4 separate regions of the Homo sapiens genome follow, and regions 1, 3 and 4 are each linked to region 2. Evidence: fine-mapped expression QTL. A gene starts in region 2. Each other region holds a variant in brackets. All regions are shown on one strand. Distances are from middle to middle.

Region 1 (8,000 bases), 78 kb before region 2:
CTACTAAAAAAACTACAAAATTAGCCAAGCGTGGTGGCGCATGCCTGTAATCCCAGCTACTCGGGAGGCTGAGGCAGGAGAATTGCTTGAACCCTAGAGGCAGAGGTTGTGGTGAGCCGAGACTGTGCCGTTGCACCCCAGCCTGGGCAACAAAAGCTAAACGCTGTCTCAAAAAAAAAAAGAAAACAAAACAAAAGAAACCAATAACCAAGTTATGGAATCAACCTAAGTGTCCATCAAAGAATGAACAGATAAAGAGACTGTGGAACATACACACAATAGAATACTATTCAGCTTTTAAAAAGGAAGAAATTCTGTTATTCACTCTAACATGGATGGAACTAGAGACCATTATGCCAAGTGAAATCAGCCAGGCACAGAAAGACAAACACTCCATGTTCTCACCTATATGTGGAATCTAAAACAGTTTAACTCACTGAAGCATGGACAGGTAGCATGATGTTTACCAGAGGCTGGGGAATGGGGGGAATGGGGAGATGATAGTCACAGGGTACAAAGCCTCAATTAGATAGGAAGAGTAATTTATTTTTAGATCAACAGCACAACATGCTGAATATAGTTAATATGTGAGTACTATACATTTTAATATCTCTAAGAGTAAGTTGCTAATGTTCTCATCACAAAAAAGTTAAAGATTTGAAGTGATAAATATGTTAATTAGCTTAATTTAATCATTTCATATTATATTCAAAAATCATAACAATACTTTGTACCCCATAAATATGTAGAACTATAATTTGTCAATATAAAATAAATAAAGACAGAGGAAGGAAGGAAGGAAGGAAGGAAGGAAGGAAATCAGAATGAAGGGGAAAAAACAAAGAGGACCCTACCCTACTGTGGTGTCATCCAGCTGCTCCCCTACCCACAGGTATACCCACAGGTATAGTGTCTACAAAGCCAAGAGGTCAAACCCCCCAGGGACCATACCCCGACCATATGTGGGTTATCCAGGGGTCTTGGGCCCTTCCTGTATGGACCTCTTCACCAGGTCTGTCCTCTTGGGGCAGATGGCGTCACCGTATGTGCATCTCAGGATGGCCAAGGAGCAGTTTGAGGGGAAGTGGGTAGAGCTTAGACATGAGCAGTGGGGTGCCACGTCCGGGGGTGAGGCCCCTTGAGATGCAGAATGGAGCCAAGGAGGAAGGAAGAGGGTGCGGCAGCAAGTGGGTCTCCATCTCTTCTCTTGTCCTGGGCCCACACATGTGAGGGTCGAGTCTGGTTGCAGAGTGAGCTGAGGAGCCCTCCCCCACAGCCTGGGCTGAGCCCCACCACACATGCAGGAACACACAGGAAGGTAGAGGAACCCCTACCGGCTTTCCCCCCATCTCAGGGTCCCGGCCACGTCTCTTGTCCAAAACATCGTACTCCTCTCTTCGTCCTAGATTGAGCTCCTATAACAGATAAGAAAGTGTCAGACACAGGACGGAGGAACCTCAGAAGGATGGAGCCAGCTGGACTGGGGAGTGTGGTTTCCCTCTCTGGGGTGGCTCATAAAAAGAGGGGCAGGGGCTGGGGAGGGGATGGTAACTGGTCCATCTGGAGACCATCATCCCAGAGGACATCTCAGAGAACACGCCTTAACATGACAGTGGATGGGATCCCCAAAGGTCACCAAGTACTATAGGCTGATCAGTCCAACGGGATAAGGATCAACATTCTCATGAGCAAATAGAGAAGTGGGGGCTCAGAGGTGGTAGTCAATTTCACCACAGTCCCATTGCACAGGGAGTGTGAAATCGCTTTCCCCTCCTCTGGGAAGATTCTAATACATTCCTTCTCCACCCCCCTCTAGCCTTTGCAAATTGCTGATGGCTTGGGGGCTCACTAGTGGCAGGCACTAGACTAAGCTCGTTCCATGCATCAAGACATTAAAGCATGTAATCTTTATGGCGCCCTTTGAGACAGGTACAATTACTACACCTGTTTTGTGGGTTAGAAAACTGAGGTTAAACAAGTTGCAGCCGGGTCGCAGAGGTGATAGCTAGGGACCAAACCTAAACCCAAGACTCTGGCGGGCGCGTTCCCTAGGTCCGAGGAGGAGGCTGCCCTTCCTTTCCGGAGGGTCTACGGCGAGGCTGACTTACGTTATAGAGCTGGTTCTGGCCCTGCTGGTACGCGGGGGCGTCTGCGCTCCTGCTGAACTGCAACACAGAAAGCAAAGCGCGTTACTGCTCCGCGAGGGCGCGCAGGGGAGCCGGGGTGCCAGGGCGCGCGGCGACCCGAGGGACAGCCCTACTCCGCTCCTTGGCAACTAACAATGCTGCCCTGCCTCCTGGGGCTGAGCCCTTGCAGGGGCCGGGGCGTGGCAGCCCCTTTTTCTGAGCCCAGTTGTCCTTTTTCCTCCCGCCTGTGACACGTGCATTCATCACGCTGGCCCAGGACCCGCTGGAGTTTATTCTTCCCGGGCTAGCGCCCTCGCGCGTGCGCAGAGGTATAAGGTTCTTGGTCTGCGCCCCCGGGGACATGAGTATTCTCTAGGATCCCTTCCTCCGGGGACTCTGAGGACAATCCAGGGTGGATGGCGGCTGGTCAAGATCCCGCCTCCTATCTTGACCCCCGGAGCAGTGTACTGTACGTGCATCACTCGCCCAGCCCTCAGCCATCGCCCGGCTGCCCCGGTGCCCAGGAAGCCTCGCGTTCGCTTAGTGTCCTGAGCATCTGTGGGAAGCTGACACAGCCTCACTCCTGCTTCACTTCATGCCGCTTCAGGCGGGAGAAACTGCAATGTCTTACAGATCTAGAGCATTGGAAACAACCTTAGAAATCATCTAGGGCAGCATTTTCAAACTTAAAACAAGAAACTCAGTAAGATTTGGTTTTTCAAATAAAATATTATGCCAAAGTCCAAAATTCAAACAAGAAATGGGTTGAGAAGCACTGAAGTGATGACTGGGACTGGATTCTCCCCTTTACTCCTAAATTCTTCCAATCTCTGCCCACACCATGACCAGCCCCACGAAGAAATCCAGGGTCTGCAAGGCACCAAGTGAAAAACCCACGCTCTGGTCAGCTCCCCAGTTACAGATGAGGAAAGGGCCTTTTCAAGAGAAAGGCTAACATGGCCTTCATTCACACTTGGAAAGAAGGACCTCTGCCTGAGTGTAAGCCCCTTTGTCACCAGTAGCATCGCCTTCCCTGGGACACTCTGATGTGCACACATTTGTACGGCTTGTCATGGAGGTGCCTAGCACCAGGCTCTCCCTCCTACCCTGTCCATCTCAGCCAGACACTGCCACCTCCTCCTCAGCCCACTCAAGGCACACACTTGGCTGGTCCTTGCTTTGCTCCTGGATACCAAGCCCCAGGCACCACCCGAGCTTGAGACCTTCCAAGACCAAGGCCCCTCTGAACATCCATCAAGTGGGGGACCCCGTGCCCTCCTCCCAAAGCCCAGTGGTACCCACCTTCACTCTCAGGAACAAGGCAGTGAGAATGACACCATAGATGAAGAGGATTCCATCCAGCAGGTAGCAGAGTTTGGGATCCAGCAGGCCAAAGCTCTGTGCCTCTGTGCCAAGAGATAAAGCTGGTCAGCCAGGCCCAAGGTGACGAGAACACATCCCCATTACCCCAGGGTGGCACTAGGACTGACTGACCAAATAAATCATGACACGGAGACTATATCCAATCCCCATGCCTCAGCCTGATCACAACCCTCTCCCTCCCTCCCACCTCAACCAGCTCCTGGAAAACCTATTGGCACCAACGGCAGATGTGGCCGCTGTGGGGCCAAAGAACCTGGGGCAATGGGAGGGGAGGTGGAAACAAGGCGAGCAGATGAGGCTGTTCTCTGTGCACAGAGCTCCTGCCACTGCAGCAGAAGCCCAGCCATGTTAGCCCCGGTGTGAACCAAGAACTCTGGAAGCCTCGGGAAGATGTTCACGTCTGGATGAA[T/C]GGTACTCCTGGCCTGAGGTGTGTGGCTCTGAGGCCTACCCACAGGGAGACAATAGGTCAAATGATGGTCAAATGAGATCATTTCAATATCTGACAGTTAACTAGGACAGGGAGAATCTGGGTTAACTCTCCCCCAACTCCCTGCCTCCTCAGTGCCAAGCACTCTCCCGCCTAGGACAGTGGGATCTGGTGCTCGGCTTCCCTTCCCTGTTCCCTGAAGGGTTTCATGGCCAACAGACAGAGGTACCTTTGGTGCCCCTCCCCACCTAGGCCCAGCATCTCCCTGTCCCCTAGTCCCAGCTCCATGGCCTCAGCCTTCTCTGTCTCCCCTCCTCCCACTACACACACCCCATTCCCAGGACACGCCTTGCTCTTCCAGACTATTTGCCCTGTGCCTTGCACTCTCTGTTCCCTCTTCATGTTCCCTCCATTTCTCTCCCTGAAACCCTACTATTTGGTAACATTTGATGCATCCTACAAAATGCAGCTCAAAGATCCCTTCTGTGTTAGCTTCTCCCACTGCAAATTTCCCAGGGGCCCCTAACTCCTAGTGCCATATTAACCTTTGTCAAGCTGTAGTTAATGCACGTTTAGTTGGCACTGCCATTGGAGTACAATGGGCTGAAGAATGCAGATACACTAAATACTCTGGTTAAATAAAAGTTTGCATTTTTGGGCTGGGGGCGGTGGCTCACGCCTGTAATCCCAGCACTTTGGGAGGCTGACATGGGTGTATCACTTGAGGTCAGGAGTTCAAGTCCAGCCTGGCCAACGTGGTGAAACCCCATCTCTACTAAAAATACGAAAATTAGCTGGGCGTGGTGGCTGGCAGCTTTGATCACAGCCACTCTGGAGGCTGAGGCAGGAGAATCGCTGGAACCTGGGAGGCAGAGGTTGCAGTGAGCCGAGATCACGCCACTGCACTTCAGCCTGGCACACAGAGTGAGGCTCCGTCTCAAAAAAAAATTTAAAAAGTTAGTGTTTTTATTTGGAACATCATTGCACTGTGAATGAGGAGACTCAGATTTTAGTCTGACCATACTTCCTACTAGGTAAACGTGCAGCAACTCAACCTGTAAAACAGGGTGTGGTACCCATCTCACTCCACCCCTGCCTGGTAACTAGAGCAGAGGTCCCAGGCCAGCCCCGCTAGTGTCTGTCTCCCAAGGCCTGGGCGCCCTCTGGTGGCCTTTGGACCCAGATGAGGGCAGAGGGAGTGGAGGCCATATGTGGGAGTGCTGTCATTCTTTCTGGCTGTGTGATTTGGGGCAGGTTATGTATGCTCTGTCAGCTGCCTCTTCTGTTGAACAGGGTGAAAACTAACATTTCTTCAGACACTGCCTTAAATGTAATCATCGTCAGATCCTCCTGCCACCCACACTCGGACACTGAGGCACCGAGTATTCGGGTTCAGAGCACACGGTCACAGGCAGCCCAGGACTGATCCCTAGCAGTTCTCGCCCCCTTCCTGCCCCTGGGCCAGCCCTGCCTACCCCTCCATGCCAGCAACGTTTTGGCCTCCCTGACGAACTATGGAAGCAGATGATTCAAAGGCAGCCGCCAGTGTCCCCACCCCCACCACCCTGAATCCCTCTGTCCCCTGGCTTTTGACTCCAACCCTAATTCAGGACCCCTCTTGCCCCCAGGCAGCTGATCTCTACAAACCTCCCACAGACCCTGCCCAGAGACCATTGATGACCCAGCCACTCGGACGAGAGTCCAAGCTCTTTGTCCAGCCATGTTAGGGCTCTGCCATAACCAGTCCAGGCCTGAAAAGACCACAGCTTTGTGCCACCCTGTCCCTCTGCTCTTGTCTTTTCCCCCCATTCTTCCTTGAACACCCATATTTTTCTACCCCCTGGCCTGCTGAGCTAGATCTTTTTCTAGGCTTGCGTTCTACCCCTCCACTCAACACCTGTTGAAATCAGACTGTCCCACCACCTGAGCCCCTGAGGAAAAAGTGAGAGGATGTCGGTTCAAGAGCCTATATCCCCCAAAGCGCTCTACAAACCCAACTCCTCAGGACTCAGATGCCCCTCCATCTAGGCTGTCAGCACCTGAGACCAATGGCTGCATCTTCATTATTGCCTCTTCCTCCAGCCCCAGCATCAGAGTGCAGGGCACAGGGTAGACAATCACTCGATATCATGGAATTTTTCAGGGCTGAACTTCAGTGATGAGGAAGATGCTGGGCCCAGCCCCAGGTGTGCCTGCCCTCTGGCCCCAAGGTATTGCTGGAAGTCCTCACTGACCTAGGGACGATCTAAAGGCCTCTGGGGGACAAGCCAGCCCCCATGAAGGCCACCAAAGCTGGGGTGACTTTTTGCTGTGAGGACTGCAGAGGAGATAACCGTGGCGATTTATGGGACTGGTTGAGACTCAGAAGAAAATCCAGGAGAAAATCACTCAGCTGCTTGTCACAGAAAATTAGAACAGAAAAATTACTGGACAGTAAATTTAGCACAAATAAGAAATATTTCTTTGTGTTGTGCAGACTCAGCACAACACAAAGGGGCAGGGGGATTGGGCATGTCCCTGAGATAAATAATATGAACAAGTTTCCTTCCTTTCTTCCTTCCCTCCTTCCTTCTTCCTTTCTTTCTGCATAGTTTTATGACTGATGACAAGTGTGCTGTGTGTGGTTGGGTGGAGGAGAGGATATTAACCCCAACATAATTCCCTGTGTAGGACCCTCCTCTCCTCGGTCCCACTATACCTGTGCTGGGAGAGATGGGCCTGAGGAAGACAGTCATGGCCCAGAAAGCTCCATGCAGGGATGCAGGACCTGATTCAGTTACGCAATTAATTAAATATTCATTGGGCATCTGCTCTGTGCCGGGAACTATTGAAATGGAATGAACTCTGGATTGCGTGCAGGTGGGTTCGAGTACTTCTCTTGCCACTTACTAGCTGTGTGGTTTTGGACAAGTCACTTCCCTCTCTGGGCCTCAGTTACCTCATCTATTAAATGGAGGGTAATCATATCTACCTTAAGGGTTGTGATGAGAATCAAAAGACAATGATGTCTGATATTTGGGTCGAGTCTTCTGAGTCCCTGCCCTCATGGGGCTTAAGTCTTAGCTCTTGAGGCCGCACACAAGGTGTAGGAGCTTCCCTGGACAACAGACAGTTTTGCAGGATGCCAGCTCAAAGGCACCGCATCGCCACTCTCTACTTGGTCCTGGCTTCTTCCCTGTGCGCGCTCCTGTGGCTTCTTCGTATTTCTACCAATTCCATCCCAAAGGGACCAGCAGCTGCTTCCTAGGAGGTTTCAGGGTATTACATGGTAGCTACTTTTCTGTAAAAGTGGAGAAGCTGTTTTATTTAATGTTCCTGATCCCTACCCAAGAGTACAGCACCCAGGAGAACCTCAGCATCTGAAAGGAGCCCCAGAGACTAATAGAGCATTCTCACACAGACTCTCAATCCACCGCCCTCTCCCCTGAGGCTCTGACTTAAGTGGCCTGGAGTGGAACCTGGGCATGGGGACTTCACTGCATGGCCATGAATGGATTGAGATTCAGACCTGCATCATTACAGGGGCCACAGCATGTGAGAGGGAAGCCCTGCCTTCTGTAGAGATGCAGCCATACCCTACAACAAATGTAAATTTCTGTCAAACAGATGCAATAAAATTAAAGCTTTGGTCCTTCTTATACACTGTACTTCTGAACTGTGTATTATGGAACTTCTCTAAGCCTTCGTTTTCTCATCTGTAAAATGGGGATAACAACACTACCTGTCTCATTAGATGGTGGTGAGGGTTAAATACGATACTTTTTTTTTTTTTTAAGTGGAGTCTCACTCTGTTGCCCAGGCTGGAGTGCAATGGCATGACCTCAGCTCACTGCAACCTCTGCCTCCCAGGTTCAAGTGATTCTCCTGCCTCAGCCTCCCAAGTGGCTGGGATTACAGGTGCACACCACGATGCCCTGCTAATTTTTGTAATTTTAGTAGAGATGGGGTTTTGCCATGTTGGTCAGGCTGGTCTCAAACTCCTGACCTCAAGTGATCTGCCCGCCTCGGCCTCCCAAAGTGCTCGGATTACAGGCATGAGCCACCGTGCCTGGCCAAATATGATA
Region 2 (8,205 bases):
TTTGTTTCTGATTCCTTTCAAAGTAATACTTTGAAAAACTTTTGTCTATGAGCCTTATCTAAGATAGCTAAAATGTCAGTCTCCACAGAGGCAAAGTAAGTGGCACTGAGAAGTAAAAAAATCCAGCCAATCCCCCTGCCCCCTATTTGTGGAAATGGGGCACAGCCCCCATCTTGCATATATTTTTTCAGACATGTTTTTACTTCGGGAGAATATTCCCCTACAGAGTAAGTATCTTTAAAAAATGAAAATGGTGGATGTAACAGTCATCCTATGACCAGCCAGAGCTTTGCTGCTTTTTCACTATCGGGCCTACCTCTGCAATCATTGTTATGTTTCTGTGCTGGTATGGGTGTGCCCAGAAATCAGAAGAGGGATGAGTTGGATTGCAACAGATGGAGAAAATGCCCACTGCTGCTTTATAACATATTGAAAGCAAATGAAGAATCCCAGCCATGGGTTTCCATCTCCTGTTTTGAGAACAAGAAGACAGTCCGAGATGTAATAATAGTAATAGTAAATACAATGTTTACTTATTGGCTGTCTACTATGTATTGGACACATTACATTACTTCTCATTGTCACATCTCTGCAAAGAAGGTATTACAAGTCTTTCTTTAGAGGTGAGAAAACTGAGGCCCAGAGAGGTTAAGTAACTTGCCTAAGGTTGCACAGCTAGGAAGCGGCAGCACTGGGACACCACCTGAAATTAGCCTGGCTCTTTCTACCACGTCCAGCCACCTTCCTAAAAGCAGAGCCACTCACAAGCCTGGAAGCTTTGCATTCCCCAAGGCTGCATGTCAGAGCTCCATCTCCTCACTGATAAAAGACAAACACCACACTGACCGCTGGGTGCATTCTTGGCTACTGCAGAGTAGGGAGTTAGAGGCACTGAGGGCTCTGCAGGCACAAGTGTGCCCATGCCACTAGGCACGCCATCTTAGGATCTTCTGGCCTCAAGCCCTGGTGACTGTCTTGGTAGATTCTCTCTCAGGGAGGCCTCCTCATGTGGACAGACCAGGTCATCATTTGCTTTGATCCTAATAATCTGGGCATTTCCAAAGAAATGCAAATGCAACAGCTTAGTAAAAAGTAGACATTTTAAAAGGGATGTATGCAATGGGTCACTTAACTGAGCAAGAAAAGAGAGAAGACCTGACTGAAATTCTATGTGCGGCCTTTCCTCCGGGGAGACTGTGGAGGTGTCCCCTCAGGCAGCAAAAGCACCATCGCAGCCCTCGGTGTCAAGGCCTCTCTGAGTCGCGCTTTGCCTTACCGTACCTCGTTTCTGGGCTAGGATATTTTGAAACACTTTTGTCTATTAGCTTTATCTAAAATAGCTAAAATATCAGTCTCCATAGAGGCAAAGTAAGTGGCACTGAGAAGCAAAAAATCCAGCCAATGTGCAGTTTTCTCCTCCTGCCCCCTATTTGTGGAAATGAGGCACGGCCCCCATCTTGTCTGCTGGGTGGGGTTCTGTTTACCACGCTTGGCAGCCACCGCCACCCAACAATCTTTCATTTTTCTTTCTAACTTCACTTTGCCCCTACCTTGGTCTCTCCAAGCCGAACACAAATGGACCAGTGAGGAAACTGCAGGTAAAGACCCTGAAAGGTTATATGAGCTCCCTGGTGTGGTGTCTCAAGCCTGAAGCTCAGAGGCTGGAGCTATTGCCCCTGGCTGTCTCCCCTGAAGTCACTAAATTCCAGCGTTCTGGGTCCCCTTGTCCCCAGCACACAAGGATGGGCTGCTCTGAGCAAGCTCAGGCACCCTCACTCTGCCACACTGTGTGTGTGACTTAGACCCCACAAGGCTTTTCTGAGAAAACAGCTGTGACCTGACAGAAACCCCTGCAGCTGCACGGGCCTCAGAATCCCCCGAGGCGCTGGCCCGGGCTGTGCCTGGCTCCCTGGTGGGAGCAGAAGTGCCCATGGCCTCTCCTGCCCTCCCAACAGGGCCCCTAAACAAATTCCCACACCCAGGTGAGTTACCAGGAGCGATCAGGTGGGCCGAGGACATTTGCTTGCTTCACCTTCCCTGTTTCTTTAGATTGAAATTCAGCCTGCCCCACTTCTCAGGAAGATGCCACGAGGCTGATCCCCCTGAGCAGTTTGTCCTGTCCTCTTTTCACTGGTTTTCTTCCTCATTACCTGGGCTAGAAAACATGGTGGAAGCTAAAGGCTTGCAGCAAAGCTGGGCTCCCACGATCGGGAATGAGGTGAGGAGCAAGCACTCTTGTTGGCTGGGCGCTGCTCGTGGTGGTGACTTAACCAGGCACATCGTCTCATCTGCCCCGTGTTCTGTCAATGCCGGGCCCTCTGGCTGGGCTAGATGGCCGCCTAAGGGGCAGGCTGGGGTGAGTCACGGAGCCTGGGATGGTGCGTCACCCGGCAGTCCCAGGCGTGGGTGTGGGGACAGCCATGACAAGGCTGAGCCTAGACACGGACGCTTGGCCATGAGGTGGCGAAGGCGCTGTGGAGGCTGCCACCCGGTGCTTCCTGCCTGTGCCCCTCTCCTCCTTGGTTACCCCACTTACTCCCGGGCCCATTGGAGTGTTTCAGGCCATGACCTTGACTGACCAACAAAATCTTCTTTGTTGGCAAAGGAAGAAAGAAAGGGGCTGAGTGACGGAGCCAGCCAGAGGGTGAAAGAAGCTGAAGGGACTAGAACGTCGCAGCACGAAACATGGCCTGGCTGACATTTTCCGATCCTGTCCAGCTTCTGTGAAACACTCCCTCTCCGTTTCTCTACCCTGGGCCTGCCTCGGTTGCTCTCTTGCTTCCTTCTTCCTTCCTCTCTTATCACTCGAAAAATCTGTACCTGGAGGAGCTGTGTATTCTAGCAGCTGGCTCTGAACTGATGCCCAACTCGGCTGTGACGGAGCAGATGCCAGCACCGGGCCGGACCCCTCACTGCTCACTTGCCCATTGATTTGAGGAGGGCAGGATTTGAAGGAGACCCCAGCCCCTCACCACCCTCCACTACCCACACCCACTCCCCTACACATACACAAAGAGTTTCTAGAAGTTCCCTGCCGTCGACACGTCGGCCCTACCTGTAATCGGCAACTGTGCCTGCAGGATGGCCGCGGTGAAAAGCGCCTTCCACTTCATCTTGTCCTTTCCCTCAGAAAGAGGCTGGGAGGCAGAGGCTGAGGCAGCGGTGGCCGGGACGGTTAGGAGAAAAGGAGTCTCTGCTGGTTTTATTCTGCAGCTACCTCCCCAGGAAGTGGAGGACTGTGGGGCCTTTGAGAAAGCACCTGCCGACAGGGCCAAGAAATTCGCACTCCCCCTTTCGGTTCACAGGCAGGAAGCCCTGGAGGTTTGAGGGTTTGGGGTGTGTGTATGTATCTGTCTGTCTGAATTTTGCTTTTTCTCTCATTTGACCATTGTTTTAATGCTCCTTTTTTTAAAAAAAATAATTCTTATCTAATTCCTATCTTGATTGGTAAAGTCCATCTCTAGGCAAATACAAGTTCTCGATGGATGTAAGAACATTTGCTGTTTTCCTAGACTGTCAAATATTTTATGGTGGCTGGCAAAATGACAGAACCCTGGATTAGAGTCCAGGACAAATGTAGAGACAGATTCCTTGGGCTTTAGTGACATCTCTGCCTACCACCTACTTGCTGTGTGGCGTTGAGTCAGTCACTCAACATCTCTAGACTTCAGCTTCCTTATCTATAAAGCAAAGAGCTGGAGTAGATCTGAGGTTGCAGATCTGAACTTGGCCTGAATTTGGATCATTGTGTGAAATACTGTAGCTCACATAGTATTTTAAACACTTGTGTTAGTTGTCAACATTTAAACACCAGAGTAATTTACAATAATAAAACATTAAAACCTAGACATAAACTTCGTCTAAAAATTGTAATATATCTATATGAAACAAACTTTAAAACATTGCTGAAGAACGCCGAAAGGACTTGGGTAAATGGAAAGGCATACCCTTCTTTGATAGGAAGCTCTCTTTTAAGGAGACCACCATTCTCTCTTAATTAATCAATCTATTTCATTGAAAATACCAACAAAAAGTTTTAGAACAAGTTAAGCTGATTCCAAAATTGATATGAAAAAAATTAATGTACAAGAATAGCCAATAATCCAAAGTCACAGCAATCCAACATAAAATTGATAAATTGGACTTCATCACAATTAAAAGTTTTTGTGCATCAAAGGACACTATGAAGAAAGTGAGTCCTGCAAATCACCGCATACCTCTAAGTGATGGAAACAGCATTCCCATCATCAGACTTGGTACCTACTCAGAGCCTAAATTGACCCCTAAGGGGGCCGATGACTTACTCAAGGCCACACAGCAAGTAGGTGGTAGGTAGAGATGTCACTACAGCCCAAGTAGTCTGTCTCTACATTTAGTCTGAGTCTTCATCAGTGAAGGTTGTCATTGGTCTGGGGTGCTGACACACTGATGAAGCCTACATATACCAAAATGAAGACACAGCTGGGGAGGCCATCAGGGGGAAAATAGCAGAAGGAAAGGTGCAGAGGAAGGATATCTTCTACTGTGGAAAACTGTGGGCTACAAATCACAACCCAGAGCTGGTCTGCCCGAGCCTAGAGAGGATGCTCAAGGTCCTCCAGCTAGATTGTGTGGATCTTTACATCACTGAAATACCCATGGCCGCTAAGCCAGAAGACAAAATCTACCCTATAGGTGAGAATGGCAAATGGTTATATCACAAGTCAAATCTGTGTGCCACTTGGGAGACTTCGGAAGCTTGTAAAGATGCTGGCTTGGTGAAATCCCTCGGAGTATCCAGTTTTAACAGCAGGCCAGCTGGAGCTCATCCAGAACAACCCAGGACTCAAACCCAAGCCAGTCAGCAACGAGGTTGAGTGCCACCCATATTACACCCAACCAAAACTTTTGAAATTTCGCCAACAACATGACATTGTCATGATTGCATATAGCCCTTTGGGGACCACTAGGAATCCAACCTGGACAAATATGTCTTCTCTGCCTTCGTTAAAGGATGCACTTCTAAAAAGGTGCAATAAGATCACAGCTCAAGTTATTTTGCGTTTCAACATCCAGCAAGGGGTGGTTGTCATTCCTAAAAGCTTTAATCCTGAAAAGATCAAGGAAAACCTTCAGGCCTTTGACTTTTCTCTCACTGAATCAAGGACATTGAAGCCTGGAGTGAAAATGTCCGCTTCATAGAAATGCTCATGTGGTGTGATCATCCCAAATACCCATTTCTTGATGAATACTGACTTCAGAGAGTTCCTGAACAGATTCTCCCCTCCCACGTGTGGAGGACCTTAGGGTGCATAGTTCCCCATGGACACGGAAATGAAAGAGGTTTTATTATCTGAAAAGTGGTGATGGAAACATGCTTAACTTTTGTATAGTGTAAGTGATTTTAACTCACCCATGTTAAAGACAAAATGTTTAAATCTGTTGAAATTCTTAGGAAATTATCACCTAATATTTTATTAGATAAATGTCTTCTGGGTTCCAGACCAAAAACAAAACAAAACAAACAAACAAACAAAAAACAATTAGATTCCAGAAAAGACTTGAAAGGCAACAGATGACAACCAGCAACAAGTAACTCATGAATGTGGGTAGTAACATTGTTAGCCTGAGTTCTTTAGCAGTCAACAGGACAACAAAGACAGCAGAGGGCCCCCATGTGCCAGGGTGCTGGCAGTGGCCTTGAGGACTTGAACCATTGACTGCAATACAGACACAGCCAAGATAAGATCCAGACATGCATTATTAACAAAAAAGTGATTTGCTGCACCTTGAGTAGGGAGAGAGGGCTAAGTGTAGAAAAGTCTTAAAATAGAGTCAATTAAACACCACAGTGATCAACAAAGCCATAAGGATTTTATTGTTGTTTGTTTCTATCCGATGTATGTTTGTTTAGCTTTTACTCAGCTTGAAGGATGCATACTTGCTGGTTCTCTTTTGCATCCTCAGAGGGTCTGAGTTTCAACATAACTAGTGGTCCATACTTACATTGTCTTATATTCACTCTTGCCACATTGATCATCGAATCACCATTACGTGAAGTGGCTTGAAACAACCAACATACATAAATAAAACTCTGCATCATAAAGTATTCCAAAGACGGCTATTTTAAAACAAGACATTTTATAAGGGGACTTTAGGAGACATATTGAAAGAAGAGGCTTTATAAAAGTACTATGCTTAAGTCTTTAAGAGTGTTATTGGGATAGCTATGTGAATTTTGAGAAAATAGCACGTTCAAAAGAACACTGGTAATTGTACTCTATGTAAATTTTTAAAGAGAATAAAATTATTAGAATTCAACAACAGAGATGTACCTATTTTCAGTTCAACTACAGAAATATATTTTATTCATTCATATTAGATCACTCTCACAGGGCAAGAGAGTTCTTCAAAAATTATGCTTTTCCAAGACCAATTGCTTATAGATAATCTTCAATGACCTGTACACATACATTTCTGAGAAAGTATCACTTAAAAACTTGATCTATACTGATTGTTTTCACTGATTCCGATGTTAATACTTACAATGCTTGTCCTCTAGACAATACTTTGTTCACAAGAAATCATGAAATATGATGACAAAGAAAGACAAAAGAAAGAACGAAGAAAGTGAAAAGACAACCCAACCCACAGAATGAAAGAAAACATTTGTAAATATACTGATAAGGGTCTAGGATTCAGAATATATAAATAACCCCTATGACTCAACAATAAAAAACATAACCCAATTAAAAATTGGCCAAAGATGTAAATAGACATTTCTCCAAAGAAGACATACAAATGGCCAATTAGCACATGAAAAGATGTACAACATCATTAGTCATTAGGGAAATACAAATCAAAACGACAGTGAGATACCACTTCTCACCCACTAGGATAGCTAAAATAAGAAAACAGACAATACAAGTGTTGATAAGGATGTGGAGAAACTGGAATTCTCATACATTTTTGTGGGTTATATAAATGGTGAAGCCCTTGTGAAAAATAATTTGGCAGTTCCTCAAAAAGTTAAACATAGTATCATGTGACCCAGCAATTCTATTCCTAGATATATACCCAAGAGAATCGGAAACCTAGGCTCACACAAAAACTTGTAAAGGAATGTTCATAGCAGCATTATTCACAGTGGCCCTAAACTGGAAACAATTCGAATGGCCACAACTAGGAATGGATAAGCAAATGCGCCGTATCCAAACAATGAAATATGACTCAGCCATCAAAAAGAATGAAGCACTGTTACATGCTGCAACTGGGATGACCCTTGAAAACATTATGCTAAGCGGAAGAAGCCAGGCACAAAAGGTTACATAGTGTATGATTCCATTTATATAAAATGTCCAGAATAAACAAATTCATAGAGATAGAAAGCAGGTTAGTAGTTGCCAGGGGATGGGGAGAGTGGGGAATTGGGACTGTCAATAGCTATGAGGGTTCCTTTGAGATGATGAACATGTTCTAGAATTGGACAGTGGTGATGGTGTGCAACAGAGTGAATATACTAAAAACCATTGAAGTATGCACTTTAAAATGACACATTTTATGTTATATGAATTATATCTCAATACAAAAATAATGCTAAAACAAACACAAGAATAGTTAGGAAAATTCTTGCAAAGAAGAGTAAAGAGAGTGAAATAACCCTGCCAGATATCAAACAATAAAAGGGGTGTAATTATCATACAGTACTTAGGGTACTATAGACTTAAACATATATGGTCAATTGGTTTTCAATAAAGGTACAAGAAAAATTCAGCAGGAAATGGTAGTCTTTTCAACAAATGGTGGTAGAACAACTGGATATCCACATGGAAAAAAAATTGACCCTCGGTTCATACCATACACAAAAATTATCTAAAATGGTTCATAGACCTAAATGTAAAACCCAAAACTATAAAATTTCTGGAATAAAACATAGGAGAAAAATATTTGTGATAGAACACAAAAAGTAAAAACCATAAAAGAAAAAATTGGTAAACTGGACTTTATCAAAATTAAAAGTTTTTGCTTTGTTCATTGAAAGACAGCAGTAGGAAAATGAAAAAGAAGCCATAGACTAGGAGAAATTATGTCCAAACACATACATCAGACAGAGGACTTATATCCAGAATATGTAAAGAACTATTTTAACTCAATAGTAAAGTAATCAACTCAATAAGAAAATGGGCACAAAGTTTGAATAGACAATTCCCAAAAGAAGATAAATGA
Region 3 (8,209 bases), 26 kb after region 2:
CCAGGAACACACAAAATATTCTTCTCCTCTTTCTTTTGCAATCCAGTTTTGGAGCCAAAAAATAATCTGTGTGCACATGTGTTTTGATAATACTGTTTCGACTTAGGTGGGGAAATTAAATTCAGGAGTTTTATGACTTTCTTTTGTTCTGAGTATCACTTTAGAGTATAAAAAGTTTTTCAAAAGTTCTTTATCAGAAATAGTTTCACCCTATGTTGAATTAACAATACCCAGGATTGTGAGACATAAATCAACGTGAGTAGGAAGCTCCATCTGAGTTTCATCATTGTTTGTCTATCTTGGCAAGATTTATTCAGAAGCACCATAATGGGGGCCAATCCTTTTGCACCAGGCTCAGGCAGCTCAGGAGGCAGCTGTGGTGAGTGATGCACTCTACCAAGCACAGTGGCTTCTAGGAATAAAGAACACATACTCAACTACCTTCAAATGCCAATGGGCAATTTAAAACTGGTACTCATTCCTCTTCAAGAGCACCACTGGAAACATCTTTGGAATTGATGGGACAAAACTTATTTGATTATAGTGAAGGATATTTCTCTACGAAAATGGCTTCAAAATAGGAAAAAAGTAGCTACCACATCTTCCAGGAAATCCAATAACAGGTCAACTCTATTGGTAAACAAGCAAGTAAACAAGCAAGCAAACAAACCAGCATGTGACAGAAAACTGGCTAATATTCTGGGACGCTTTCCAGAGAAACATTAAGCCTTTTAAGTGTGTATGAGCCACTTTAAGAAACTTCATAAGTGTTGCTAAATTCACCACAGTCTGCTTCACCTAGAAAGGGGAACAGAGAAGAATTATTTTGTTAAACTGGGTTAACAAATCTTAAAAATTAATTCATTCTAGGGAAGGACTAGATAAAATTTCTGATCTAAATTAAGATTTTCAGTTCATTTCAACCACTAGAATATACTAAATAACCACTTGGGTTTGTTAAAATGCAGACTCCTGAGTTTCGGTTTCAATAGGTTGAGGGTGGGGCCTAGGAATCCTCATTTTAGCAATAACCCTCCTCTCCAAGTATGATTCTGACACACTGATAAACGCTACTAGGATGTAGCAAGAAGCAGGCCACTGCCGTGGCTGCTGTTGTTATCTCATTTAAGAGTATCTGAAGGCTTAAAAGACAAAAATAGTTGAGAACAGAAGGGGTCCTGAACATCAGGGCAGAAGAGCAGTGATTAGCCATTGCCCAGTGATAGTGACCACAGCTGGGAGGTGAACTTTCCCCCTTTCTGCTGCCACCAACCAGGGAATCCATCTCTAGGTATCAAGACTGGGCAAGTCTGTAATCCATGACCTTTTGTTACCTGTGTGTTTGCTAGGAAATATCCGGATGTGCGCCAGAGGAGATAAAATGAGGCTTAGCACAAACATGCTGCTGCCCAGACTTAACAGTGGTCAAAAGCAATGCTTATGCTTATAAGAACTGCTTGTTGGGCGGGCGCGGTGGCTCACACCTATAATCCCAGCATTTTGGGAGGCCGAGGCGGGCAGATCACGAGGTCAGGAGATTGAGACCATCCTGGCTGACATGATGAAACCCTGCCTCTACTAAAAATACAAAAAATTAGCCAGGCGTGGTGGCAGGTGCCTGTGGTCCCAGCTGCTCAGGAGGCTGAGGCAGGAGAATGGCATGAACCCAGGAGGCAGAGCTTACAGTGAGCTGAGATCGCACCACCACACTCCAGCCTGAGCAACAGAGTGAGACTCCATCTCAAAAAAAAAAAAAAGAACTGCTTATTCCAGGGTGCCAGCAAATGCTTCGTGTAGACATTTAAGCCTTCCACTGATCATGCAAACATGCTCATGGGGGCTTCACCCAACAGTCCAATGAGGCAAACCACATTCAGTTAAGCTCCGTATCAGCTCTCACAAGTGGCAGTCTCCATCTGTGTGAAACAGATTTCAGATGCAGAGGGCTTCGTGGTATTTGGAGGAATAATACCTTCCAAAACCGATCTGGGCAAGCCAAGCAAGGTGGCTGCCAATGTGGGGAAGCTCCAGAACGCCTGTGAGGCCCCTGTGGGTGGTTCTCCAAGAAGATGGGGGCCCTGGTCCTCACAGATATCACTGTACACTCCCCGGACTATTAAACAGCTCTGGTGGCAAACCTGGCGGGTGGGATTAGTGGGGGCACTCCTAGACTCGGAGATGGACAATTCCTAGCCAGAGGCACCCGGTCAGAGCGGGCAGCTTTCAGGCCCTGCCCATCCCTCGGGTTCTGGTGCACTGCCTCAGAAGAGTCACATCTGCTCTAGCCTTTGGGCCGCCTCTCAGGACAAGGGAAAAATGTTCTATCTCTGTGCTGCAGAGAAGTGCTCCTTTGTCAGCATAATAAAGTGGGAACCTCAAAAGTATCTGTTTTACTCACTTATTCAGTGTGGAGACTTATGGGAAAACAGTTTTATTTTGTTATTAAACCAGGCACTGCCTTTGGGCATGTTATTTATATAAAGATAACTGCGCTTTAGAGATTATGTCCTGTGAAAGTAAACTTTAACTTCGAAGAGCAGGCCCTTCTTAACAGTCATCCTGATAATTTGTTGCCAGGGAATAAAGTTGTAATTGCTACCTCTATATTCCTATGAAGTCAGATGGCTTTGCCAGCCCAGAAGACGACCAGTGGCCCGTGCCTCTCCTGCATGCACAGCAGCAAAACAAGCGCCAGGACTGTGGGATTCTTTATTCCAACAGAGTGTGAGAGTGTTTGTCTCAAGTAATGAGCCAGACAATCATTCCTAAACACCTGCTCTATGACACACACTGTCCTAGGCCCTGCTTGGAATTAAAAAAAATTAGAAACAAAACAAAACTGAGATTTCCAATCATGGTAGGGAGTCAATAGTTCAACACGGAATTGTTCTACAATTGAAAAAGACAGAGATTAAATAAATGCTAAGAATTTAAGCCCTCAAATGACCTACAACCTACAAGTCTACCTTAGTTATCATCACCGTAATCTCCTGAAACAGCAGTCAATCATTACAAGCAGAAAGTGCATTATAAATTACACTGAGCTAGGAGCCTGGCCAGCTACCAGTGAGGCAGCCAGAGGAGAAGTACAGCATCATGGATAGAAGTCAGGTGATGGCTCTGGAGCAAGAATGCCTGGGTTTGAGTCCCAGCACCACCACTTCCTGGCTGCAAGAACAAACAGTTTAGGCCAGTTTGTTCTCTGTGCATCAGCTTTCCATTTCACACATGTGGAAAAACAGCACCTACCTGTTGCGGTGGAAGGTTGCGCAAGAAAGGGATGTGGTGAGAACTGAATGAGTTAATACATGAAAAGTAGCCAGTATAGCACCCAGCCAGTAATAAACAATGGACACTAGCTGTTATTGTTACTGTTCTTATCACCTCCCCAGATATGCCAGAATTCCCTGTGTCACCTGGGAGAAGCACCAGTCCCTTGTATTCCCTCATTTGAACCCTTAGCTAACTCCAAAGACTCCAGTTACACTCTTCTTTCCTTTCCCTTTCTGTCTTCAGGTCCTGGGCTTTATTTTCTCCCATGGCCTCTTTTATCTCAGCCTCCTCCCTTCCATGCACTTCTTAGTGGGATAAACCACACATCCCCATAGGCATTTGTAGTACTGGGGCTGATGGGATGGGGTTACTTGCTCAGACTCAGATGAAGGGCATTCACAGTCCAGGAGCACCTGAGTCTAAGCCTCATGAGAAAATGCCATCGTGGGTCATAACTGGGCTCTGTTCAGGGCCCAATAAGCACAGCCTTAAAATGGAGTCTCAACCTGGTGTCCAGGCCTGTAGACAGAGTTCAGGGGTCTGCGAACTTGGCTCAAAAAAATTTTTTTTTCATTTTCATTAGGCTCTAACTGAATGTATCATTTCCTTCAATAATGAATGTAGGGAATAAACCACAGGGTGACAGCCTATCTGTGACTGTCTCCAACAGAAATAGAGAAATCACAGATACGTTCATATCATGTCACAGGTGTTGCAGATGTCTTAAAATATTGTCTTCAATCCTCACTACTTTAAAAGCACAGAAAAGGCCAGGCATGGTCGCTCATGCCTGTAATCCTAGCACTTTGGGAGGCTGAGGCAGGCAGACTGCCTGAGCTCAGGAGTTCGACACCACCCTCTTTATGAAAATACAAAAAATCAGCTGGGTGTGGTGGTCTATGCCTGTATTCCCAGCTGCTTGGGAGGCTTGAGGCATAAGAATCGTTTGAACCCAGTAGGTGGAGGCTGCAATGAGCTGAGATGGTGCCACTGCACTCAGCCTGGGTGACAGAGTAAGACTCTGTCTTGAAAAAAAAAGAAAAAGTAATAGACTTATTACTAGATCTTATATTTAATATATTAATAAAACGATTATACCACACATTTACAAATATTTTCATAAATGTATTTCATTATAGTTGATTTTCTTCTTAATCCTCTGTATTTTATGTGTTTAAAACATTATTCTGAGAAGGGGTCAGCGGCTTTACCAGACTGCCCAGGGTGTCCAGGGCACATGAAACGGTTAAACCCCCCTTGCCTTAGAAGGCTGAGGATGGCTGTAAGGGCGGCAATCTTAGGTGAAAGATGTGTAAGTACTTACTGAACTGTGACATTATAATATTCTTCTGGTGTCACGATTTTTGGTCCACCAAAGTAGTCCAGGACCCAGATATTGGTTATATTCAACTTAGCAAAGAACCAATTATGGCTGGAAGGCCAGGTTTTCATCTCAGGGTGTCGAATGAATAACGAATGCTTTGCAATATCCATTTCTGTTTCATTCACCTAAAGGACATATATGAAATAAACATTCTTATGGCAGTAACACTTTATCTTCTCATTTGTTAAGAATGTGTGATTAGGCCGGGTGCAGTGGTTCACGCCTGTAATCCCAGCACTTTGGAAGGCCAAGGCGGGCGGATCACGAGGTCAGGAGACTCAGACCATCTTGGCTAACACGGTGAAACCCCATCTCTACTAAAAAAAAAAAAATTAGCCAGATGTGGTGGTGGGCACCTGTAGTCCCAGCTACTCAGGAGGCTGAGGCAGGAAAATGGCA[T/C]GAACCCGGGAGGCGGAGCTTGCGGTGAGCCGAGATCGTGCCACTGCACTCCAGCCTGCATGACAGAGCAAGACTCCATCTCAAAAAAAAAAAAGAATGTGTGACTCTAGCATTCTATAAATCCTAAGAGTTTACTTACTTGTAAATCTTGATCTTAACCTTAAGGAATCAAGAGAAAATAAAGGAAATGTAAAGAATGCAGAGAATAAAGATTTCAATTGTTGGTAATAACAGATACCACGAAGTGGGAAACCACTGTAAGTATAATACCAACTTTCATTGGTAAAAAGGCATTTTGAGCTATTAGAATAACTAGCACTAAGTACTGTAACATTACTGGTGCCTAAGACATGTAATGTTTAGCATATTTATCCCATAACATGGACATGTTAAACATACAGATGAATGTACTGAAGGATAAAAATGTTTAGAAACCACATAACAGAACTCAAAAGCATGTGCTGCTCCTCCATCTTTTTCCTGCCAGTGAAGGACACTCAACTACAGAGATGCATCCACAAAGAATTTACAGACCATAAATAACACTTGTCTGAGGCATTAATGATTGACACGGTCAAAAAGCAAATCTGCTGGCTGGGTAATCAGATCAGCACTCCTGACACCATGCCCACTGCTCTTCCTGAGATTGTATTTGACCTCTTCCCTTCAGCAGGTGATCCAAACTAAATTCACTTCCAGTTTTCAGTAATGGATAGTCCTCTGGTTGGCCTACTTAATATGTTTTCTCTGCTTTAAGCCACTGTTAAAATATGGAGACAAGGAGCCCAGACATGGAAAAACATTATACCAATGTAAAATGTAATGGAGAGTAGAGGGCTTTGGTCAACCAGATGCTCTTTAGTAAGAATAACTTTATATACAGGAGCTTCATAGTTGTTACATCTGCTTGGCTTCAGAAAATCATTCATTTTTGTCATATCTTATTTAACACCTATATGAAAGCAACTTATTAAAACGTTTGGTTTTCATGGAATTACTTCACCTATTAGAATAGAACATGTTCTGACTGGGCATGGCAATCACAAATCAACTGCATTTCATTCTGAAAAGATCTATTCTGCCAGGCATAGTGGCTCACGCCTGTAATCTCAGCACTTTGGGAGGTCGAGGTGGGTGGATCACTTGAGGTCAGGAGTTCAAGACCAGCCTGGCCAACATGGTGAAACCCCATCTCTACTAAAAATACAAAAATTAGCTGGGTGTGGTGGTGCGTGCCTGTAATCCCAGCTACTAGGGAGGCTGAGGCACAAGACTCGCTTGAACCCAGGAGGCAGAGGTTGCAGTAAGCCGAGATCACACCACTGCACTCCAGCCTGGGAGACAGAGTGAGACTCTGTCTCAAAAGAAAAATGATCTATTCTTTCATTGTGAATACGATGGTGTTCTGAAACCATCTCCCTTCCTGTAGGATAACTACTTACCTTGGTCACAGTTCCTGACAGCATTATGTGAACACAAAGGGGACTTTGTGGATCAAATCCATGTTTCTTGCAGAAGTTGGTCTGTGCCAAAGTCATGGTCAGTGTAGCATATGGATTCTCCTATAGAGAGAAAATGAAGATCCTCTCATGTGAAATATGGTTTCTGGAGAGGTAATAAATTTCAAAAGTTGCATACATGATGTCCCTAGAGCTTGACTGGTCTTCCACGAAACAATGAATCATAAAACATCACCTTCCACTCAGGGGAAAATAATACTTGGAAAGTATCCTGACCACTCCCCAAAGGGGGTGCGGGGGTTCATATTTAAAATGAACTGACTTGGTAAAAATTATTTCAATATTCTTTTTCTGAAACCCTGAATTTATTCCATATTCATCAGAAGAATTATAATTATAGTGACACCCAAATTCAAGGCTGTTCTATAGGCTTCACTGAAAGATTTAAAGGGTTAAACTCTATACAAAACCATTGCTAAAAACACCACAGTTGCTCAATTGGCTAACTACGCGATTTAAGCAAGAAAGTAGCTGAATCATGCTACTTGGTTATCTTACATTAGCAGAAACTGTCATGTGATTTCAAAACTGGAGAAGTTGTTCATTCCTGCTTTAGTAACAATGAGTTTTATCCCACATTCAAAAAGTAACACAAGTAAAATTCTTAATGCTTTCTTATTCAGAAATCAACTTCATAAAAGGCACTGTTGACAGATTATAGCAAAATTCACACATCGCATTTTAGACTATTTAGCTCTTTAAGCTCTAAGTGCCTTGTGTGGAGAATTTTGCCATTTCACACTGACCCATCAAAACAAAGAGTCATAAAGAGATTTCTTTGAAATCATTTAGCCAAATAGTCACTGTCTAGAAACTATTAGGCAAGGCACCACAGGAGACCAAAGAAGGGGAGGGGGACACTCAGGTAAACTCTCTCCCTCCGTGAGTTTATAATCTGGTTGAAAAGGCAGACATAAACAAATGTGTATGTCCAGCATAGACCAGAGTGATAGAGGAACTGTAAGGAGCTTTATAATATATTCAAAACCAGGATAGAAGGTGGGAGGACATATTAAAGGGAGAGGAGACACTGACTGCAAAAAACACAGAACTGGGTGAGCCTAAGACTTGATGAACAGTACCAAGAAACCTGATTTGCTGGAAAGAAGGGCTTTCCTACGGGAGGAGCCTGGGGTTGGGAGTGGAGAGGGCTCCAACCTAAGTTAAGGAGTCTAGATTGTAATTTGTGGGCCAACCTTAGGCACTGTTTTCTAAGAACCACCTGCCTGGAGAGCTTGATAAAATGCTGATTTGGGTTAAAATGTTGAAACAGGCTTCACTCCCAACCCAAATAACTGCAATTTTTTTTTGTTTTTTTTTTTTGAGACGGAGTCTTGCTCTGTCACCCAGGCTGGAGTGCAGTGGTGCGATCTCAGCTCACTGCAACCTCCAACTCCCAAGTTCAAGCGATTCTCTTGCCTCAGCCTCCCGAGTAGCTGGGATTACTGGTGTGTGCCACCACGCCCAGCTGATTTTTGTATTTTTAGTAGAGACTGGGTTTCATCATGTTGGCCAAGCTGGTCTTGAACTCCTGACCTTGTGATCCACCCACCTCGGCCTCCCAAAGTGCTGGGATTACAGGCGTGAGACACCGCACCTGGCCTGCAATATTTTTTTTAAGACAGTGTCTCAC
Region 4 (8,000 bases), 63 kb before region 2:
AGATGGCCACCTACAAGCCAAGGAGTGGCACCTCACGAGTGGTCATGTGGTGGCCATCCTTACTAGGAGAAAATGTCACGCACTGTGCTGGGCAGTGAGGGTGGAGGTGACAGACACAGATGTAGCCTCCCAGCCGAGCAGAGAGGTGGGCAAGGAAACAAATCATCCCACGAGAGAGGGGCACAGGGTGCTAAGGAAACATGAGGGAGGGACGATGCCTGCAGTCACGCTCTGGGAGTAAACAATGACAGGCAAGTGATCTCCTTTGGTGAGCAGGTTGCATGTTTCAGTTCCCTCCGCTCATTCCACCAAGAGCCCCCCAACGCCAGTGGACAAGTCTCTCAGGTTAGCAGACAACACTTGCTATATGCCAGGCACATAGAGTGTAAGATACACACACACACTTGCATACATATGTGTATATACACACACATAAATAGAACAATACAAACATATATGTATGCATGTACATATATACATAGAGAGCAATATGTGTGTGTATGTGTGTGTGTGCATATATATATATTATAGATATATATTATATATATATATATTATAGATATACAGAGAGAAAGACACTTATTCTTACCTCTTGTTGCCAACTTGGACATGTAGCTTTCTCTGGCTGACTCCAGGGACTGATGCTGTAACAATCATTGTCATACCAAACATTTGCTCTACACTTTCAGTTTACAAAACCCTTTTATATTTTTTATTTCATTTGATCCTAACAACAATTGAGTGAGGTAAGCCGGGTAGATCTTATTTGCTCCACTTTGCAGATAAAGAGACTGAAGGTCAGGGAGGTGAAGTGACTCTCCCGCAGTCAAACAGCTCATGTGTCAGAGCCTGGACGAGAAGCCAGGTCTTGCCGGGCCTTTGTTCTTTCTCACGCAGCACACTGCCCTCAAGTTTTGCTCTTGAAAATTAGCACCATTTCAAAAAAATCTACTTTCGAGCAAACCCCTTATGTCAAAATTCCAGGCAGTATTTTGCCATTTCTCTGAGAATTTAATTTTTTCTGAGGATAAACTCTCACAGTATACAGAGAAAATAATGTAAATGTCCATCAACTAGGAACCTGATAAATTTTGGTGTATTCATATATAACCGTTAAAAAAAACACAACAGATAATTCTACATGTGCTACCATGAAAGATCTTCAAGATAATTAGGTTTTAAAAAAGGTGGCCAGGTGCAGTGGCTCATGCCTGTAATCCTAGCACTTTGGGAGGCTGAAGCTGGAGGATTTCTTGAGCTCAGGAGTTTGAGACATAGCAAGACCCGTCTCTGCAAATAATGACAATAACAAAATTAGCTGGGTGTGGTGGCACACACCTGTAGCCCCAGCCCCCTCCTCCGGAGGCTTAGGTCGGAGGATCACCTGAGCCCAAGAGGTGGAGGCTGCTGTGAGCTGTGATCATGCCACTACCCTCCATCCTGGGCAACAGAGTTAGACCCTGCCTCAAAAACAAAAACAAAAACAAAAAAAGCTCTAGATACTTGTGTATGAAAAAAACACTATGTAAGCTGCATATATATGTATATATACATAAAAATATATCTAGATGGAGTTTCTGTTTGGGATGGTGAAAATGTTCTGGAAATGGATAGTGCTGATGATTGTACAATAATGTAAATGTACTTACTTCATGTCACTGAATTACACTTAAAAATGAAAATAGTAATGTTATATTATTTTACAAGAAAAAACACGTTAAAAATATATGTATATCTGGAGGGCCGCACACACAAAAATGTCATCCACGGTTACTTCTGCAGAGGAGCCACGGGAGGGGGAGGCTGGGTGAATTTCACTTATTTTCCACCTTACACCTTTTTGTGGTGTTTGGAACTCTAACTATGATAGTATATAATATTTATAATACTAAACAACCAAAACAAAAACAAATAACATGAACCCTTACATCAAAGAAGGTGTGTGCGGCAAGATTCTGGCAGGGCAGAAAGTGGAGGAACAGGGGCTGGCCCATTTAGCGAAGCGCTTTGCGCCCAGCCCTGGCTCAGTACATTTCTGGTGATGACTTGCCGGGGTTTGGAAGGACCTCAGCTATACAGAACTTTCACGATAATGGTATTTGGTGAATATGGTTACATTTATATATGAACACAGAAAACCAACTACTGCTGGTAAATAGCATGATCACTATTGTTATTATCCAGTGCTGTAAGGACGAGATGCTTTCACCAGCAGCCGAGTGAGATGAAAGCGCTTTTCCGATCCACCGAATCAGTCCCACTGCAACTGTAAGCTGGAGACCCTCTGGGCCTTGGGAGCTCAGGCTGCCTGGGCAACGCAAGGGAGGACAGGGGCGGAGGGGGAGCCAGGAGGGCCGCACCTGCCTCGCTCGCTGGTCGCCCTCGCTCTGGGATCCGTCCTGCCGGTCCCAGGCTGTTGAGGGCGCCTCCTCAGAGTCCCTGTGGCCCCCGCAGCTTCCCCGGAAGAAACCCGTGCATCCATCGGCTAGCCCAAGCCCAAGCTCCTCCCGGAGCTCCCCGAGCCGGGGCCAGGCCTCCGCCCCTCGGTGCCCGCGCCTGGGCTCCTCCCGCTGCGGGCCGCCCGCCCGGACGCAAGGCACAGGGGGACGCCCCGCCGAGCCGCTGCCCACTGCACCGAGTTTTTCGGAGGCTGGGAGAGGAAATGCCACTTGGATTTTAAAACCGTCACCGATACGCTATAGGTGAATATTTCGCTGGGATTTTAAAGAGACGAGCTTCAGCCTGCTAAGCCGCGCTCACGCCGCCTCTCCGCCCTGGCCTCCCCGCGTCCGGCTTGGGGCCGGGTCCCTCCCGGGTCAAAGCTACGCCGGGTGCACTGCGGGCTGGGCAGCTCTCCCACTACGCCCAAAGCCCAGGCGGCCGGGACCGCCGTCCCAAAGTCACAAACCACACCCGTGAAGGACGCCCTCCGCAAGACAGAGAGGAGGCTGGGCCTGGGAAGGAACCTCCGGCCCTTCCTCACCATGCAGCCAAGGTGGGCTCCCAGCCCCGTGTTGCCGCCAGCCGCGGCTCCCGTGCGGTTACGGGAGCAGCAGCCCCGCCCCGCCGGCCCCCAGCTGGCTCCTCGCTCGAGGTTTCCTGTCGAGCGCTGCCATCCAGGGCCCGGGTTATCGCGCGTGATCTCCCATCTGAGCTGCTCACACGCTGCCGCCCGCCCCCACTTGCGGTC[C/T]CTTGTCCCCGAACCGCACCCGCCCCCAGGCCCCCGCGCTGAGAGACCAGGGCGTGGATCTGCGCCGGGCTCCGGCGCTGGGGGCCGAGGGTCTGGTTTTTAGATATCAAAGGAGCCCGACACCAGGGTCCCCCAGACAGGCAAGGAGAGGGACCCGGCCTGGGGCCTGCCTTCGGTGGTGGGCACAGTGGCCAGGATCGGGCCTGGCTCCGGCTGGCCCGGCACACGAGCACGGCGACAGTGGCAAGACTGGGAGGGCCGGCGCTGCCTCCTTGGGAAGCCCCGGAGAGACGCAACCCTGAGAGGCTGGGCCTTCCCACCCCCCGCCCCCTCCCCCTTCCTCAGATAGCAGGGAGGAAGCGCCAGGGGTCTCTCCGTTCTCACATAGGGGGACTCCAAATGTCGTCAAACCTGCCACTCTCGGAATCAACAGCTGCTTTCATTTTGAGCCCTGTGAGCAAAAGTTTCAGGGCTTTCCTGGCACACATACCCAGTGCATGGAGAGCGCTAAATTTTATCTTCCCTTCTAGAGTGGGACATTCCTGTGTGGAGCTCCGAGAATACATGCCGGCACTGCCTGTGCCTGGGGCTGTGCTGGCTCCCACCCAGCTGCAGGAATGAGGGACCACGGTACGGAGGGAAGTGGCTGAGTTGACAGCCACTGATAGAGCTTTTTCCTGATTGTCTCTGGCTTGAGCTAACCAGGTGGCATGACAAAGTACTTAACAAAAACTACAGATGCAGAGAATTTTGGAAATTTTTAAAAGACAGGAAAAAAGGTGGTTGAGGCAGAAAAAGGTAGTTCTAGAGTGAGAGGGGTTTCTTTCCTCCTCTTGGCTCACAGCAGAGGCCAAGTCCTTAGCAGTGTTTCCAGAGCAGGTGAATGAGACTCTCTGAAGGCCGGCCCAGGGGTCTGCCTTGTAACACGTTCCCCCAGCTTCTCATGTACACCACCACTCTTCGGGGACCACCACCTTCTGGGTTGGATGGGTCTGGAAGATTCTACGAATATATCCAGCCCTACCTGAGCATTTGCAGAAAGCCTGCTCTGTGAGGGAGGGCAGCCCCAAAGCTCTCTGTTGTAGACACAGAACCCAACAGGGACTACTGGTGCCACACTCTATCTCTTCTGTCAGAGAAGCACCCAAGTGAGCCATGACTTTGACATTGCATGGCCATCTTATGTTCATTCCTCAAACTTTGTCATGTTAATGTGTACTCTCTCGGGGACATCATACCTAACACGGCTGCCTGAAGATCTGCTTCGTTTAGAATATGCTAGTGAGGACAGTCCTGGAATTTCTTTGTCTCTTTCCAGCCCTGCTTTCTCTACCTCCAGTCGTTTTCTGAGGACCGGCTTGGTGGGTGCTGATGCCTGCCTGGAAGACCTCACACCCACAGTGTCTTAGAAGATTCTGAAAGCAGTGTGAGGTACCAGCCTGCTTTAGCGCTAGGAGCTGGCATGGTGGGGGTCTCAGGCTGCATCCGCACATTCTCAGCGGTGCTTTTGCTCCTGGAATGGAGCCACAAGCTGCTCTGGGCCATTTAGAGACTCTAAGTGGTTTGCTCAGGGCTATATGGAAGTGGGAGGTGGGGGACCTGGGCGCTCTGTAGCATGCTTAGTCCCCCTGGCAGGGTTAGAGGTTAGTTGACCAGAGACAACGAGTCCAATTCCCAAACAGACCAGAATGACCAGCAAAGGAGAAAAGAACAAGGACACATTGCAGCCAAAATGGAGCTAGAATCTTGCCTCTGTCCATCCTTCACTGGAGTTATCCTGGATGGAGAAGGAACCATATCACCTGCAAAGCCTGGAAGGGGAGCCCTGCTGTGAGGTGAGCCAGTAAGTCTGTGAGTTCAGGAGGGAGCACACGCTTGTCTGTCCATCTGTTCATGAGCAGGCGCTCTTGAGTCTTCCTAAATATTGCCCAGAGCTCTCCATCCAGATACTGTCCTTTCCCTTCCTCTCCATTGATGGTCTCCAAGCCTTTCTTAGCTTTCATCTTCCCCTAAGGATTCCTTCTCCCAAAGCTCCAGCCCATTCCAATGTCAACTGCATTCGTTGTTTTTGTTACTCTCATTGTGTCAAATGGGTTCTTTCCTATGCAACTAGATTGTAGGTTGCTCCAAGGTAAACACCGTGATTTCTAGTTCCTTTGTTTCTACCACTGCAGGACTGTAGGAAGCCCAGTTGTAGGCATCACTAGGACTCAGTAATTACATAATTGCTCAGATAATTGAGAGAATGATTGATTGATTAGTGGTCATTAATGCCATAAAATGAAGGAATTTCGCCCCTCACATTTTCAAGAACCTATGAGTTCGAAGAGACCTGAAAGAACATTTTTATGGGAGCCTACACCAGTGCTATCACCTAAAGTGCGTGACCTTAGGGAAGTTGCTTCACCCCTTGTTTCTGTGCCTCCAAAATACTGGTGTTAATACAGTAATTTCTGATTCCTTCCACCTGTGCCCTGCTCAGCGATCCAGTGTTCAAGCTGGTCATCAGGAGAAAGCTACTTATGATTTCCTAACAAGCCACCACAGAACATCACATTCCCAAACATGCTCTTCACCGTCCCTGCTGTCCCCACGTGCCTAGCCCTGGTGTGGGCAGGAATGAGTGGGATTGGGATGTTTTCTCACAGGTCTTTCTCAGGTGAGGCCCCAGGCTGTGACCAGGCCCCTGCCCTGCATGTGACTCAGGCCTAGCCCCTGCTGGGGCAGGAATGCCACCCAGCACAGCATCCTACTGGTGCCTGAATAAAGAATGGACTGGAGGTTCACCTGAAAGGGGCTGCCAGGTTTCTGCGGGGGCCAGCCAACGGCTCACAATGACCCTGTGTTCGACTCATCTTACGATGAAATTTTTCAGCTTGACGAACTTTTACTCATCTTTCAAGGCTCGGCTCAAATGTTATTTCCCTGGGAAAACTGCGCTACTTTCAGCAAAATGCATTTCCTTTTGATGGGCATCTGTTTTTTTCTTTCTTTCTTTCTTTCTTTTTTTTTTTTTTTTTTTTTTTTTTGAGACAGGGTCTTGCTCTCTTGTCCAGGCTGGAGTGCAGTGGTGCAATCTTGGCTCACTGAACCTTCACAATGGGCATCTGTTTCTGTTCTATGGAGTGACCTAAAAGTCAAGAATCATGGAGAAATTGGGAGCAATGGCTCACGCCTGTAAATCCCAGCACTTTGGGAGGCTGAGGCAGGCGGATCACTTGAGGCCAGGAGTTCGAGACCAGCCTGGCCAACATGGTGAAACCCCGTCTCTACTAAAAATACAAAAAAAAAAAAATCTGTTAGCTGAGCACTGTGGCGTGCGCCTGTTATCCCAGCTACTCGGGAGGTTGAGGCACAAGAATTGCTTGAAGCTGGGAGGGGGAGGTTGCGGTGAGCCGAGATCAAGCCACTGCACTCCAGCCTTGGTGACAGAGTGAAACTGTGTCTCAAAAATTTTAAAAAAAAAAAAATCATGGGGAGAATTTATTGTTAAACAGAATATTAGTTACATTTTCAAATAATACAGTCAATATGTTTTTCTGTAACCTTTAGATATGTTTTCAGGTGAAGTACCTCTAAATGTAAAGAAATGGGTCCAATTGTTAATTTTTTTTAAAGGTTCAAGAAATACACTACTTTCTCTGGCTTTTTCCTTACAACTCTTTTTTTTTTTTTTTTTTTTTTGAGATGAAGTCTTGCTCTGTCACCCAGGCTGGAGTGCAGTGGCATGATCTCAGCCCACTGCAACCTCCACCTCCCGGGTTCAAGCGATTTTCCTGCCTCAGCCTCCTGAGTAGCTGGGATTACAGGCACACGTCACCACACCCGGCTAATTTTTGTATTTTTAGTAGAGACAGGATTTTGCCATGTTGGCCAGGCTTGTCTCAAACTCCTGACTTCAGGTCATCCGCCTGCCTTAGCCTCTCAAAGTGCTGGGATTATAGGCTTGAGCCACTGTGCCCTGGCCTCTTGTACCTTTTTTACATTAACAACTGGACTCGCTTTAAATGTAGAGATACTTCCTGAAATGGTGTGTGAAGGTTGAAGAAAAACATGAGCATATTATTTGAAAATGTGGCTAAAGTTCTGTTTTAAAGTAAGTTTATGGTAATATTTCTAACTTTTCAGATGCTCTGTAGTTCTTGGCACATTTTTCACTAATATTTGGTGACAGGTCTGTCCCCGTTAAAAATTGAGAATTCCACAAAGCCTGGGATATGTTTTATTCTTCTTTGACTCTTCACTCCCCAGCTAACCACCATGCAGTGGGCAATCATAAGGGTTTAATGAATGAATAAATGATCAAGTCAGGTAGGTTTTCCCCGAATTCTTGTCTTTGGGGCTGAACCCAGGGTAGGTTTCCTGGCATCATTCCTGTGTTTTCTACTCTCCCTCCCTAATCCTCTGAAAGTTTGAACAAAAATAAGATTATGGGCCAGGTGTGGTGGCTCACGCCTGTAATCCCAGCACTTTGGGAGGCTGAGGTGGGAGGATGGCTTGAGCCCAGGGGTTTGAGACTAGCCTGGGCAACATGGCGAAATCCCGTCTCTACAAAAAATAGAAAAATTATCTGGGTGTGGTGGTGCGCACCTGTAGTCCCAGCTACTCGGGAAGCTGAGGTGGGAGGATCACCTGAGCCCGAGGAGGTCCAGGCTGCAGTGAACCAAGATCACATCACTACACTCCAGCCTGAGTGACAGAGTGAGACCCTGTCTCAAAAAATAAAAATAAAAATAAAGAAATAAGATTATGACCAAGAGCCGTATGTCTCAGATGTTGAAGGGCAATATACCTGTGCTTCAGAAAAATC

Direction of the effects. Positions count from the first base shown, and alleles are read on the strand shown. Sizes are in standard deviations (SD) of each study's normalised expression. Not every link is listed here.
With allele C in place of T in region 3, the expression in caudate of the gene that starts at base 3,177 in region 2 is higher (small effect, 0.38 SD a copy in GTEx).

The links.
Region 1: its variant is fine-mapped to the expression of CD247 in whole blood (TOPMed, PIP 0.94).
Region 3: its variant is fine-mapped to the expression of CD247 in caudate (GTEx, PIP above 0.99). The same link has a PIP of 0.9 or more in skeletal muscle.
Region 4: its variant is fine-mapped to the expression of CD247 in whole blood (TOPMed, PIP above 0.99).

The regions. Positions count from the first base shown.
Region 1 is chr1:167,437,236-167,445,235 of GRCh38, forward strand. CD247 (CD247 molecule) reads right to left here. Exons shown (of 8, transcript NM_198053.3): 2 at 3,429-3,532; 3 at 2,109-2,165; 4 at 1,335-1,415. Among named protein-coding and RNA genes, the nearest start is that of CD247, 77 kb to the right of the region's middle. RefSeq lists a silencer at 2,179-2,308. The variant T/C (reference allele first, on the strand shown) is at 3,919.
Region 2 is chr1:167,515,353-167,523,557 of GRCh38, forward strand. CD247 (CD247 molecule) reads right to left here and starts at 3,177. Exons shown (of 8, transcript NM_198053.3): 1 at 3,056-3,177. The coding sequence starts at 3,113. It also overlaps the pseudogene AKR1D1P1. RefSeq lists enhancers at 1,574-2,537, 1,809-3,008.
Region 3 is chr1:167,541,504-167,549,712 of GRCh38, forward strand. It overlaps CREG1 (cellular repressor of E1A stimulated genes 1), which reads right to left. Exons shown (of 4, transcript NM_003851.3): 2 at 6,499-6,618; 3 at 4,598-4,782; 4 at 1-798. The coding sequence ends at 795. Among named protein-coding and RNA genes, the nearest start is that of CREG1, 8.2 kb to the right of the region's middle. RefSeq lists an enhancer at 7,002-7,146 and a cis regulatory region at 7,065-7,082. The variant T/C (reference allele first, on the strand shown) is at 5,057.
Region 4 is chr1:167,452,497-167,460,496 of GRCh38, forward strand. The region is part of intron 1 of CD247 (CD247 molecule); the gene reads right to left. LOC101928512 (a long non-coding RNA gene) reads left to right here and starts at 2,570. Exons shown (of 4, transcript XR_007066724.1): 1 at 2,570-2,702; 2 at 4,509-4,621; 3 at 4,873-5,025. RefSeq lists silencers at 2,424-2,533, 2,554-2,643, 2,734-2,823, 3,164-3,393. The variant C/T (reference allele first, on the strand shown) is at 3,191.